Linked DNA regions of Homo sapiens. The protein of the gene in region 2 purifies or fractionates together with the protein of the main gene of each other region. This does not show direct contact. Each region holds a gene or a part of one and is shown on either strand. Other genes may lie near its edges.

Region 1 (3,500 bases), on a different chromosome or scaffold from region 2:
GTTCTTTCAAACAAACATAGTGTTCTGGAGGAAAGCAGCTAGTTCAGATCACACCTCTATGGTGCAAGTGGTTTTCCTTGAGAAAACCATTATGTTCCAGTATGCAGCAATGCAGCACAAGCACTTTATATGCACTTCCTACTTTGCCACACAAAATATTAAAAAGGCATGTATTCAGGGACCAAGATTTATTAATTTCTACTGCTTCATCAAGGATATTTATTGCAAATGCATGATGATGAAGAATAACTCCTGATACAGTCCCTGCCTTGAGTTGGTTAAGGCACCAGCAAACTAACTCATCAATGTTTTTGTACCATCAGTAGAAATAATGGCAAATAATTTCTTAGGATTATGAAAATAGTTTTGATATACTCTCATGGATGACCCGAAAGGGTCTTAAGGATTTGTGTGGGTCCTTATACAACATACTTGAGGATCACTGATTTAGACAATAACAGGAACAGACTTTTCCCATCACTGTATTTCTTAGACATTTATTTCTACTCAATATGAAAACTGAACAGTTAAGAATGTTAGCGTTACATATACAACACAACATGTAATCTAGGTCCTAGAATACATTCATGTATCAATTATCCAACAACCAAAATCCAAGAATTAAACAAATGTTTCTCAATATAAAAAACAAAGGTAGTCGGGCTCAGTGACTTACACCTACTATCACAACACTTTGGGAAGCCAAGGCAGGAGGATGGCTTGAGCCCAAGCATTCAAGATTAGCCTGGGCAATACAGGGAGATCCCATCTCTACAAAAAGTAAAAAAAAAAAAAAAAAAAAAAAATAGCCGGTTGTGGTGGCACACACCTGTAGTCTTAGCTATAGCTGTGGCGGGAGGATTGCTTGAGCCCAGGAGTTCAAGGATGCAGTGAGCTATGACTGTACCACTGTACTCTTGCCTGGGTAATAGACGGAGTCTGTCTCTTAAAGCAACAACAACAACAACAACAAAAAGCGAAAAACCAAAAAACAAGGGTCACAAAACCCAAACATTAAAGTGAATGGAGTTCATTTATCTTTTAGACCAAATTCTAGAAAGATTAATTAGCAAGTTTATCAACAAATTAAAAACAAGAAGAAAAAGCAGATTGTGTGTGGTGGCAGCAACACAGGATTGCTAAAAGGAAAGGCACTGACAGGAAGGGATATAGACAATAGTATGGTGTGACAATGGGAGCCCAAATAAAAGGGAGCGAAAAGGGGAAAAAAAGCAAGCATTAAAAAAATTCACACAAGCAAGCCAGAAGCGAGGATTCTGGCCATTGGTTGTACAGTGGGAGAAAACAATGCTATTTATTTCATCTACCTCTCATGGTCATGAGAACAACCGTAATTCATAGGAAAAGTCACGGTATCTGCTATATAAGCTAATCATGGCTTAAAAGAAAGTTTAGATAATCAGAGGACTATATCCCATTATATGGAAATTTCAAAATGGTGAATATATTGGTGGAACATTGTTTCCTCATGCCACATAAATGAGGTAATAATGTACATTTTCTTTGGTGAACTCAAAGTAGATAGATCCTACACAGAGGCTGGAGACTATATTCAACAGAATTTTCTGTGATATTGGAAATGTCCCATAGCTGCACTGTACAATATGTGACTACTGAAGACTTGCAATGTGATTAACGTGAATAAGAAACCGAATTTTTAAGTTTATGTTATTTAATTTAAAAAAAATTTTTTTTTTTTGACATGGAGTGTCACACTGTCACTCAGGCTGGAGTGCAGTGGAATGACCTCAGCTCACTACAATCTCCACCTCCCAGGTTCAAGTGATTCTCATGCCTCAGCCTCCTGAGTAGCTGGGATTATAGGTGTTTGCCACCACGCCTGATTAATTTTTGAATTTTTAGTAGAGACAGGGTTTCACCATGTTGGCCATTCTGGTCATGAACTTAAGTTTATTTAATTTTAATAGCTACATGTGGCTTATGACTACCATAGTGAACAGCACAGAGTCCTTCATAAAACTGGTCAGCAATATGCTGATTAAAAAGAATCTAAGTTCTACTAAATTGTAAGCTACGTTAAAAAAACTATTTATGGCTAGGCTGGTGGCTCAAGCCTGTAATCCTAGCACTTTGGGAGGCCAAGGCAGGTGGATTGCTTGAGCCCAGGAGTTTGAGACTAGCCCGGGAAACATGGCGAAACTCAGTCTCTATTTTAAAAAAAAGAAAAAAATAAATAACACTATTTATAAAAATGTGTAAAATTTCTCATGTTTAAGAGATCTGGCAGGTGAGACATTGCTAACTTAACATAAATCACTTGTAGGCCACTAAGTAATCTTAAAAATCTTAATTTACATTGTACTAGGACATTGGAGTGAATATTTAGGCACCACTTGTAGAAAGCTCCAATTTGCACAAAATAAATGGCTTCTGGACCATAAATCAACTGATTCATAAATTCACTTAACAATTACACTGAGCCCTGATCATGTCTATGCTTAGCTTTAGGAAAACCACAGTAAACAAACTGGATTCAATCCCCGCCCTCAGAGAGTTTATAGTCTAATAAAAGTAATCGCAGATCAAAGGAAGTTCTCAGAGGAAAATCAACAGGTGATAAGATAATTGGATAAAGGTTAATTTGGGAGAGGACGCTCAAAAAGGCCTCTCTGAGGAAATGACAAATGACTTGAGGCCCAAAGATGAGGCAGCCAGCCAAGCTACTACCTTTCCATGCAGATTAGCCAAGGCCCAGAGGCAGGAAGAAGTTTGGCTTGTTACTGGAGTCAGGCCAATGAAGACCCAGGATAGGAAAGTTGGGGAAAGGGTGCCAGATGAACTTGGAAGTTAAAATCAACCATCCAGTTTTCCTTTACTTGAGCAACACATCCAGCTTCAGATGGCGTAACACCCACTTACCAAAGAAAGGGTCCTGGCCTAGCTGCTTTCGAAGGCTTTCTACCACAGGGTGACCAAAGGTGATGTTGGGAACAAAATGCCTACAAGACAAACAAAATCTACTCTGAAAATGTTTTCAATTCAGTTTCTGTATCTCTCTCAATATGAATTCTGACACAGGTTGAGGGGATTGTCTGCAATGTTTTTCAATTTAATACTTAATCATCAGTATTAAATAATACTAAAAATAATGGGTCATTTTGGTTTTACTAGGCAATGTCTCCTTGACATTTCAACAAATCACGTCACATATATTTTCATAATGATTTGACTCCGTAATTCACGACCCATGACAAGTAGAAATGGAGAGATGATAAAATCAGAAACCCTCAGGCTTTATGACTTGCCCAAGTCACACACTAGTTAGTAAGTTCTGGACTCTAATATTGATCTCCTGAATCCTAGTCTATCTCAGGAGGCCTGTGGCTACTTCTAATCACTTCTATCACAAGGCACTAAATGACAGTTTCTTTAAACTTTCTTAAAGATGACTAATAAAGAAACATGATGTGTTTATTAGTAACGACCACCTTTCACCGAGGGTTTACTACATGCCAAGC
Region 2 (3,898 bases):
CTCTCAAGCTCTGCACAAAGCAAATGCAGAGTTGTAAAGTGTCTGGGTGAGTGCTCAAGCACAGGGCCCAGCTGCAAAGACTAGGCAATCTTTTCTTCTTCAGGAATTAAAGGAAATGTCTGTTGAAACACCAGATGACTATATAGTAAACCAAAAAGTATCTGAGACAGGTCTCAATTTAGAAGTTTATTTTGCCAAGATTAAGGATATACGTGACACAGCCTCAGGAGGTCCTGACAACACGTGCCCAAGGTGGTTGGGTTACAGCTTGGTTTTGTACATTTTAGGGAGACATAAGCCATCTATCAATACATGTAAAAGGTACATTAGTTGGGTCCAGAAAAGATGGACAACTCGAAGTAGGGATTTTCAGGTCACGGGTGGATTCAGAGATCTTCTGATTGGCAACTGGTAGAAAGAGTTTATCTAAAGACCTGGAATCAATACAAGGGAGTATTGTAAGAGTGCTGTTAAGATAAGGGGTTGTGGAGACCCAGGTTCTCATTTTGTAGATGAAACCTCCAGATAGCAGGCTTCAGAAAGAAGAGACTGTAAATGTTTCTTATCTACTGAAAGAGTCTGTTCAGTCAGTCTTAAGGTCTCTGTTTTGATGTTAATGCTGGTCTGCAGTACCTGAATTCCAAAGGGAGGAAGGCATAATGAGGCATGTCCAAACCACCCATTCCCAGCACGACCTGAACTAGTGTTTCAGGTTTACTTTAGAATGCCATTGGCTGAGAGGAGGGGGTCCATTCATTTAGTTGGGTGGCTTAGAATTTTATTTTGGTGTACAATATATTAATGAAATAGACACCTCAGGGGTAATACATGAGAAAGAATAGTCTCTACAAAATAGATTATAAAAGTTACTAGGCAAACAACTACATTCAACATATAGCAGAAAAATGAAATCTTTGGAAAGAGTAAAATCTGATTTGTGAGTAAGTATACTAAGGAAATGAAGTACTTGAATTATGAAGCAAGCACAGTAACAGAATACGGTCAGTTCACAGAAAAAAGAAATTAACAGAAACTGACCCTGGGGAAGTCAAGACATGTTGGACTTACTAAATTAAGATGCTCAAAAATCTAAAAGAAACCATGGACAAATATCTAGGGGAAACAAGAAAAGTGATGTGTCTACAAATAGAGAACATCAATATGGATTTAAAAATTATAAAAAAGAACCAAACAGAAATTCTGGAATTGAAAAGTATAACAAAAATGAAAAAATTTGCTAGAGAGGTTCAATACAAGATTTGAGCAGGCAGAAGAAAAAGTGAGCCAATTTGAAGGTAGATCAATTGCACTTGTCTAGTCTTAAGAGCAGAAAGAAAAAATAATGAAGAAAATCAGAGTCTAAGAGAAATACCATAAAGCACACCAATGTAGGCAAAAATCAAAGTCTCAGAGGGAGAAGAAAGAACATTTGAAGAAATGATTGGAAACTTCCCAAATCTGATGAAAGACAAGAACCTACACATCAAGCTCAAAGAATCTAAGTAGAATAAATTCAAAAAGATCCACTCTAAGACACATTATAATTAAACTGTGAAAAAACAAAGAAAAGCTTGAAAGCAACAAGACAAAAATAATTCATCACTTACAAGGGATCCTCAGTAACATTAACAGTGGATTTCTCATCACAAAACATAAAGGCCTGGAGGAAGCAGGAGGACTTTTTTTTTTTTTCTTAAGACAGAGTCTTACTCTGTCACCCAGGCTGGAGTGCAGTGGCATGATCTTGGCTCACTGCAACCTCCGCCTCCCGCGTTCAAACGATTCTCCTGCCCCAGCCTCCTGAGTTACTGGGATTACAGGCATGCGCCATCATGCCTGGCTAATTTCTGTATTCTTAGTATAGATGGGGTTTCACCATGCTGGCCAGGCTGGTCTCAAACTCCTGACCTCAAGTGATCCACCCGTCTCGGCCTCCTTAAGTGCTGGGATTATAGGTGTGAGCCACTGTGCCTAGTTGGACATTTTTTTAAGTGCTGGAAAAAAACAAAATTGCCAGCCAAGAATTCTATATATATACCAAACTATCATTCAAAAAAAGAAAAGAAAGAGATTCCTAGATAACAAAAGCTAAGGGAGGTAGACACTAGGAGACCCGCCCATAAGAAATGCTAAAGAAGCCTTTTAGATTGAAATGAAGGATGGGAGAAGTGACGGGTGGGGCGGGGTGGGGGCAGTGTCAGGGAGGGCAAGGGGGAGGGGGTAGGGGGAGGGGGAGGGAGGGAGAGAGAAAGGAAAAAAGGAAGACAAACGCAGGTAAAATTAACTACATAAGTAAATATAGAAGCCAGTATTTTTTTTTTTTTTTTGAGACGGAGTCTCGCTCTGTCACCCAGGCTGGAGTGCAGTGGCACGATCTCGGCTCGCTGCCAGCTCCGCCTCCCAGGTTCACGCCATTCTCCTGCCTCAGCCTCCTGAGTAGCTGGGACTACAGGGGCCTGCCACCACGCCCGGCTAATTTTTTTTTGTATTTTTAGTAGAGATGAGGTTTCACCATGTTAGCCAGGATGGTCTCGATCTTCTGACCTCGTGATCCACCCGCCTCGGCCTCCCAAAGTGCTGAGATTACAGGCGTGAGCCACTGCGCCTGGCCAGAAGCCAATATTTCTGTATTTTAAGTAACTCTTCTTTTTGTTTCCTTTATGATTTAAAAGACTAATGCATAAAACAATATTTATAGCCTATGTTAATGGGTATATGGTGCATAAAGAGAGTTTGTGACAATATAACAAGGGCACAGTCAAAGAGTTTTTTGTAGGCTACTAAAGATAAGATTATAATAAATTTAGGACATTAGTTATAATCATTGGGGTAATCACTAAGAAAATAATAAACCCGCACATGGATGTTTATAACAGCTTGATACATAACTGCCAAAACCTGGAAGCAACCAAGAAGTCCTTCGGTAAATGAATGAATAAATAAATTATGGTACATCCACACAATAGAGTATTATTCAGCACAAAACCAAAAATGAGCTATCAAAGCATGGAAAGACATAGAGGAAACTTAAATGCATATTACTAAGTGAAAGAAACCAATGTGAAAAGGCTACATACTGTTAAGATTCCAACTGTATGACCATTGTGGAAAAGGCAAAACTACGGAGGAAGTGAGGTGAGTGGTTGCGAGGAGTTCAAGATTTAGTGAAAGACCAGGCATAAGTAGCTCATGCCTGTAATCCTAGCACTTTGGGAGGCCAAGGTGGACAGATTGCTCGAGCCCAGGAGTTGAAGACCAGCCTGGGCAACACAGAGAAACCCCATCTCTACAAAAAAAATAAAATAAGCTGAGCGTGGTGGTGTGCACCTGTACTCCCAGCTACTAGGGAGGCTGAGGTGGGAGAATATATATATCTATCTATCTCATAAAAGGGAGCAAGAAGGGAATAAGAAAAGTAAGAATAGAGGCTGGGCATAGTGGCTCACGCCTATAATCCCAACACTTTGGAAGTCTGAGGTGGGAAGATGACTTGAGGCCGGGAGTTTGAGACAAGCCTGAGCAACACAGTGAGACGCCATTGCTAGCAAAAAACTAAAAATTAGCTAGGTGTGGTGGCACGTTCCCGTACTCCTAGCTACTCAGGAGGTTGAGGCAGGAGGATTGCTTGAGCCCAGATGTTTGAGGTTACAGTGAGCTATGATCATACCACTGTACTCCAGCCTGGGCAACAAAGAGAGATCCTGTCTCAAAAATAAGTAAATAAAAACAGAGTAGAAAAATTCAATCAAAACCAAAAGAAGGTAGTACTAGAACTCAGAGAAAAAAAGATAAACACTTGCATAAAAAAAAAAACCCGCAAAATGACAGAAATAAGCCCTTTTGTTGTATATAATTTGGCTGGTTTTTGTCCCTGGTTTCTGGAAGACAGCCTCTAAGT
Region 3 (3,500 bases), on a different chromosome or scaffold from region 2:
CCATCCACCCATCTCCCCTGGCCCCCTATAGGTTACCATTTTTATTAGTTTCTTATTTTTCACTGATTCTTTATCCAAATATAAATACATATTATTTCTTTTCTTTCTTATACAATAGGAGGTATACGATATATATTCTCTGCATTTTGATTTGTTAAACCTAATAATGTACCCTCTGTAGATCTTTCTATTTTAGTTCATAGAGATCTTCCTGATTCTTTTTTAAACATTGAATACTACTCCAGTATGTGGATATGCCATTATTTATTCAATGAATCTTTCGTTGCTCGGACACTAGGGTTGTTTCCAAATTTTTTGATGCTATACAATAATGCACCAACAAAGCACACCAATGTATTAAGGTTGTTTTATACATTTGCAGGTTTATCTATAGAATCAAAATGAAACTGTAGTGTCAAAATGCAAATGGGTATAGAACTTTTACTGAATTCCCTGACAAAAATGCAGATTTCTTTCTGATATGAATATGCTGTCTCCTAACCCTAAATTTAAGGATAAGTTTCTTAAGTAGAAATTTTAGTAGAAAATAGAGAACAAGCTAGGTTAATGAAGACATCAGTGATGAAAGGAATTGAGATAGGAAATAAATATCAATGAGGCTTTGAAATATAGGTTTTAAATTAGTTGTGCTTATTCTTTATTAGGTCTTGCTGGAATCTACATATATATACTCAAACTTATACTATATTTAGGTTTCACATAACAATTAGACTTCCACACAGAAAACAAAGCCTTTGAAAGACTTGCTTCAATCAAAAGATAGAAAATGGGGTTCTGTTCTAGGTAAGACAGAATAAGCAAACTCTATCCTGTCTTTCCCAGTGAATGCAACTATAAAACCTGGACAGGATACATGAAGTGGCTATTTGAGGACTCTGAAAAATTAATAGTGAGCATATTAAGGAAGACTGCAATGTGAAGAACCATTGAATTAGCAGTTTCCTTCCATATCCCCTTGTCTGAATGCAACTCAGCTTAAAACCCAAAAGTGTGAACAGAATACTCCAGAAGAAGGCCTATAGTTCTGGCTCATGAAACAAGAAAGGGGACACACGAATACTTGGAGATAGTGTAGAAATACAATATTTTTCCTTCTGTTGTAAGCCAGCTTCTGAGCAATTTCATGACAGTTGTGGCAAAGGCTATAACACAAGCAGAATGCTCAAAAACAACAGTCCCCAACCTTTTTGGTACCAGAGACTAGTTTCATGGCAGACAATTTTTCCATGGACAGGTGTTTGGGGGATGGTTTCAGGATGAAGCTGTTCCACCTCAGATCATCAGGCATTAGTTAGATTATCATAAGAAGCCTGCAACCTAGATCCCTCACATGCACAGTTCACAATAGGATTCACGCTCCTATGAGAATCTAATGCCTCTGCTAATCTGACAGGAGGTGGAGCTCAGATGGTAATGCTCACTCACCTGCCACTCACCTCCCACTGTGTGGCCTGGTTCCTAACAGGCCATGGACCAGGGGTTGGGAACGCCTGCTTACAAATACAGAGGAAGGGAAATTTTTCTTTTTTTTTTTTTTTGAGACGGAGTCTCACTCTGTTGCCCAAGCTGGGGTGCAGTGGCGTGATCTCGGCTCACTGCAAGCTCCGTCTCCCAGGTTCATGCCATTCTCCTGCCTCAGCCTCCCAAGTAGCTGGGACTACAGGCGCCCGCCACAACGCCTGGCTAATCTTTTGTATTTTTAGTAGAGACAGGGTTTCACCATGTTAGCCAGGATGGTCTCGATCTCCTGACCTCATGATCCGCCCGCCTTGGCCTCCCAAAGTGCTGAGATTACAGGCGTGAGCCACCGCGCCGGGCCCAGAAGGGAAATTTTTCTGACTGATGGAACTGTATCTCAAGACAGTGGGGCAAACTCCCATTGCTTTTATTCTTTGTCCTTCTACCACTTGGCCCTGGACATAGGTGCAGTTGTGCAAGTGCATGAGAAAATTTGGCCTGGGGACCGAAAAAGGGAGCCCCAGCAAATCACAAAGTATGGCAGAGACTGTAGACAGGGTGAAGTGTGAGAAAGCAACCCCATGAAGTAGTTCGTGAATGCTTGAGCTCATTGCCAAAGCTGTGCATGCATGGATTTGATCCTACTTAGTGTACCAAAGACACTGAAAACTGAAACAACAGAGACAACAACACCCAGGTCACATACCGGGTGTTGCACAAATATAAAATAAGTGAAATCATATAAAGTATGTTCTTGGATCATAATAAAATTAAGCTAGAAGTCAATAGCAAAAAATAACTGGAAAGCCTCTAAATACATGGAAACTAAACAACACATTTCTAAACAGCCTATGGGAAAATCTCAAGGAGTATTAGAAAATATTTTGAACTAAATGAAAATAAAAGTAATACATTTAAACATTTGCAGGATGCAGCTAAAGCAGTGTTTAGAGGGAAATTTATAGCATTAAAATACTTGTATTGGCAAAAATGCAAGGTATCCAGTAAGTAATCTAAGAAGCTATAGAGAACAAAATAAACCAAAAGCAAGCAGAAGGAAAGAAATAAGAGTAGAAATCAATTAAACTGTATATGGAAAAACAATAGAGAAAAATCAATGAAACCAAAAGTTGCTTCTTTGGAAAAAAATCAATACAATTGATAAACCTCTACAAGTCTGACAAGAAAAAGAGAAGACATAAAATACCAAAATCAGAATGAAAAAGGTCATATCACTACAAACTGTGCAACTATCAAAAGGACAATAAACAAATACTATAAACAACTCTATTGATATACATTAAAAAATTTAATGAAATAGATGGAATTCCTTGAAAATCACAAATTACAAAAACTCATCCAAGATGAAATAAATAACTTGAACAATCCTAATTACTAAAGAAGTTGACTTTGTGGTTAAAAACCTTTCAAATAAGAAACCTCCAGGCCCAGATGGTCTCTTGGTAAATTCTACCAAACCTTCAAAGAAGAAATAACACCAAATATACTCAATTTCTTCCAAAAAATAGAAGAGGAAGGAATACTTCCAATTAATTCTATGAGGCCAACATTATCCTCACACCAAAACCAGTCAAAGACATTATGAGAACAGAAAACTACACACCAATGCCTGTCATGAACATGGATAAAAATCCTCAACAAAATATTAGCAAATCAAATCCAGCAACACATAAAATGAATAATACACCATGACCAAGGAATGGAAGGCTGGTTCAATATTTGAAAATCAGTGAATGTAATCCACCAGTATTGAAAATCAGTGAACGTAATCCACCATACTGACAGCCTAAAGAAGCAGCCACATGTCCATATCAATTGATGCAGAAAAGGCTTTTGACAGAATTCAGTATCTGTTCATGATATTAACAAAACTATCAGCAAATTAGGGATAGAAAGAAATGTTCTCAACCTGATAAATGATGTCAACAAAAAAAACCTAAAGCTGACATCATACTTAATAGTGAAATGAATGCTTTCCCCCTAAGATTGGAGTAAGACAT
Region 4 (3,500 bases), on a different chromosome or scaffold from region 2:
CCGGCAGGAGTGTCGCCGGCAGGTGCAGGGGCCGCACCTGCTGGGGGACCCCCTCCCGCCCACCCCATGGACACAGAGAAGCCAGAGCAAGGTGTGTGGGAGGGGTGTGTGCGGTTCTCGCCAGGGGCCCCTGGCCTCGGCGCCCGGCACACACCAGTGGGGCAGGCTGGCAGCCGTCAGAACAAAAGGGCTTTCTTCTTAAGGTCATTCCTCTTCCAGAGGGCCAGGCGGTCAAACTCCTCGATGCTCATCCCAAACACTTCCTGGAACTCCTCGGGCGACAAGTGTCTCTTCAAACAAAAAGGCAAAACAGAAGGGACCAGTTAGCCACGCAGCAAGGGACACCATTGGGCAGTTTGCTGCCGCCAAGCAATCCAGGGGCAGGATTGCATTGAGGATGGGGTGGCCCTCAGCGTGCTCGGCCTCCTGGCGGTTCCTGACACCCTCTCTGCAGTGAAAGAACTGAGCTCAGAGGACAGCGACCCTGCCAGGGACACACAGCACCCAGTGGTGGAGCTGGAGCCAGAATCTTCTGCTCTTGACTCCTACAAAGGTATCTGCTGCTGTGGACCAAGTTCATTAACATGTCCCAGAGCAGGACCCCCACCTGCGTGCAAATGTCTGAGCTTTTATAGATTTCCTTCAGTGGTCATATTTGTTACTTCAGTGAGTGGTCACAGCTGCCATCCGAGAGCAGGAGGTGGAAGGTTTACCCCCGGGACTTCGTAGCCCAGGAGGGTGGGGCGCGGACAGTGAGCAAGAATGCCAGGCACGGCCCAGGCCCAGGCGCAAATCCTCCCTCCACCGGAAGCCCCTGGTGTGTAAGCGTGAGAGAGCTGTTGTGCCTCTCTGAGCTCAGCTTCTTGTCTGTGGTCACCGTGGAAAGGCACACAGCTTGGTGGTCAGGGCGTGGATACCAGTGCTTCTGGGATGCCATAGGAGTGAGTTAGACCCTGGAGCCTCAGTCTGCTCATCTGTGTAATGGGGTCCCCTAGAGCCCACACCCTGGAGCTGTGGGGAGGAAGGCGTGGACATAGGTCAGCACTGGCTGTGGACTGTACCCGTGGGTGCTGGCTGCATGTGTTAGTATGACCTCAGCCACCGCAAGCTCTGTGGAGCTCCTTGCCAAGCAGCCACCTGCCTTCTAGCTCTGCCTTGCAGGGCCTGCAACCCCTACTCTCCTGCCTGTCTTCCTCAGCAGGCTCTGAGAAACCCCGCATCCCTCAGAGCTGGCTCAGGCGTCCCCTCCCCTAAGGAGCTTTTCTAGGGAGCCTGGGACTTTCCATCCACGGGGATGCTTCCCTTTGCTCCCCTCGCCTCGCCTGGGCGGGGCTGAGAGGAGGAACTGGAAAGAGGCTGGAGAAGGCCAGTGACAGGAAGAGGCCAGGCTCTGCCCTGAATCACCATCTGCTGCCTTCTGAAAAGCGTGGCTTCAGTGCAGCTCTGTGGGGAGTTTTCTGTAGTTCTGCGACACACTCCACACAGTTATCATATGCCCCAGCCATCCACTCTTGGACAGACACCCGGAGGAATGGAAAACAGGGACTCAGAGAGATGATGGTCGCCCATGTTCCTAGCAGCATTACTCTAAATCACTGCAATGTGGAAACAAACCAGGTGTCCATCAATGGACGAATAGATACACAGAATGTGACATGTCCATGTGACGGAATAGCCTTCAGCCTTAAAAGGTCGTGAAGTTCCGACACATGCCACAGCATGGATGAGCCCCAAACACACTGGCTCCATGAAGGAAGCCAGACACCAAAGACCACATAGTATATGATTCCACTTCTCTGAAGTGTCCGGAACAGGCAAGTCCATAGAGACAGAGCATGGATTCGTGGTCGCCAGGGACTGGGGGAGAGAGGAATGGGGAGGGACTGTTTAACGGATATGGGGTTTCCTCTTGTGGTGAAGAAAATGTTCCGGAGCTGGAATGTTCCGGAGTTGGAATGTTCCGGAGCTGGAGAGTGGGGTTGGTGGCACAATGTTGTGAATACACTGAACTGTACTGAATGGTACACTTTAAAATGGTTAAAATGGGCCGGGGGTGGCAGCTCACGCCTGTAATCCCAGCACTTTGGGAGGTTGAGGCGTGTGGATCACCTTAGGTCAGGAGTTCAAGACCAGCCATGGCAAACCCCATCTCTACTAAAAATACAAAAATTAGCCAGGCATGGTGGCACATGCCTGTAATCCCAGCTACTCGAGAGGCTGAGGCAGGAGAATCGCTTGAACCCAGGAGGTGGAGGTTGCAGTGAGCTGAGATCACACCATTGCATTCCAGCCTGGGTGACAGAGTAAGACTCCATCTCAAAAAAATAAATAAAATAAAATAGTTAAAATGGTCAATTTGGATGGGTGTGGTGGCTCACACCTGTAATCCCAGCACTTTGGGAGGCCAAGGCGGGCAGATCACTTGAGCTCAGGAGTTTGAGATCAACCTGGGCAACATGGTGAGACTCCATCTCTACAAAAATTACAAAAATTAGCTGGGTGCGCTGGCGTGTACCTGTAGTCCCAGTTACTGAGGAGGCTGAGGTGGGAGGATCTCTTGAAGCCAGGGGGTTGAAGCTGCAGTGAGCTGTGATCACACCACTGCACTTCAAACCTGGGTGACACAGTGAGACCCTGTCTCAAACAAACAAACAAACAAAAAACTCAAGTGCTATATTAGAATCACTGTGATTAGCAAAAGAGAAAATGGAAGTGGAGACATCTGGTCAACTATGAAAAGTGTAAACCATTGCCACTCACGCATTTCACAAGAATCACCAAATCTGTGTGGTATGCCCTGGATTTTGCAGCCCCAGTAGTTGGGGTGATCTGGAGGAGGGACTCAGGAAATCCCCCAGAATGCCATGTTTTAGTTGAATCTGGGCTCAGAGTCAGTCTCTCTTTCTCTCTCTCTCTGACACACACACACACACACACACACACACACACACACACAGCCTATCCAGCAAGTCTGCCAGGAAGAGGCCCTCAGCCGCCTGCTGCTATCTCGAGTTTGCAAAGAGGAAAAGAATCCTGGTGCTTGCCAGAAATGAACCACTTGCGTGGTGCTGAGATCAGGGTTTCTTGGTGCTGAGAAATCCATCAGCCAGTCCACAGAAACTTAGAATTGTCATTTCAGACCGCGTCTCTTAAGACATTTGACACTCAATGTGTCATTTAAGATAGCAGCCCTGCACTTACAGGTACAAAATCACCATCTTCTGAATTATGGTGGAACAATCAAGACGGATGAGATCAAAGGAAAGAAAAAGGAAAATCATTTCTAGCTTTATCCAAGACCTGGTGATACCAGACCTTGTTCCAGACATGGAAAGTCAGAGACACAAGGCCCCTGGCAGGGGTAGGCTGGGGTGGTGAACTGACACGTAAGTAAATATGTAAAGGAGGGGAGGCTGACACCGGAAGGGCGAGGAGAGTTCAGTGCTGGTGCCTGGGGCAGGCCTCCCTGTGGCCACATTCCTGCTTCCTGCTGGGGGAGG

Evidence for each region.
Region 1: the proteins of PKN2 (region 2) and RPE fractionate together in Homo sapiens (co-fractionation; one large-scale study listed by BioGRID). This does not show direct contact.
Region 3: the proteins of PKN2 (region 2) and RABL3 purify together in Homo sapiens (affinity purification with mass spectrometry; one large-scale study listed by BioGRID and IntAct). This does not show direct contact.
Region 4: the proteins of PKN2 (region 2) and ABLIM2 purify together in Homo sapiens (co-immunoprecipitation; one large-scale study listed by IntAct). This does not show direct contact.

What each region holds. Positions count from the first base shown.
Region 1 is NC_000002.12:210,009,138-210,012,637, reverse strand, and holds part of RPE (ribulose-phosphate 3-epimerase), read right to left. Parts: intron 2,982-3,500; coding exon 2,902-2,981; intron 1-2,901. UniProt on the Homo sapiens protein: Catalyzes the reversible epimerization of D-ribulose 5-phosphate to D-xylulose 5-phosphate.
Region 2 is NC_000001.11:88,774,537-88,778,434, reverse strand, and holds part of PKN2 (serine/threonine-protein kinase N2), read right to left. Parts: intron 1-3,898. UniProt on the Homo sapiens protein: PKC-related serine/threonine-protein kinase and Rho/Rac effector protein that participates in specific signal transduction responses in the cell.
Region 3 is NC_000003.12:120,701,017-120,704,516, forward strand, and holds part of RABL3 (rab-like protein 3), read right to left. Parts: intron 1-3,500. UniProt on the Homo sapiens protein: Required for KRAS signaling regulation and modulation of cell proliferation. Regulator of KRAS prenylation, and probably prenylation of other small GTPases. Required for lymphocyte development and function. Not required for myeloid cell development.
Region 4 is NC_000004.12:7,966,814-7,970,313, forward strand, and holds part of ABLIM2 (actin-binding LIM protein 2), read right to left. Parts: exon of another isoform or gene 2,946-3,500; intron 291-2,945; coding exon 177-290; 3' UTR 1-176. UniProt on the Homo sapiens protein: May act as scaffold protein. May stimulate ABRA activity and ABRA-dependent SRF transcriptional activity.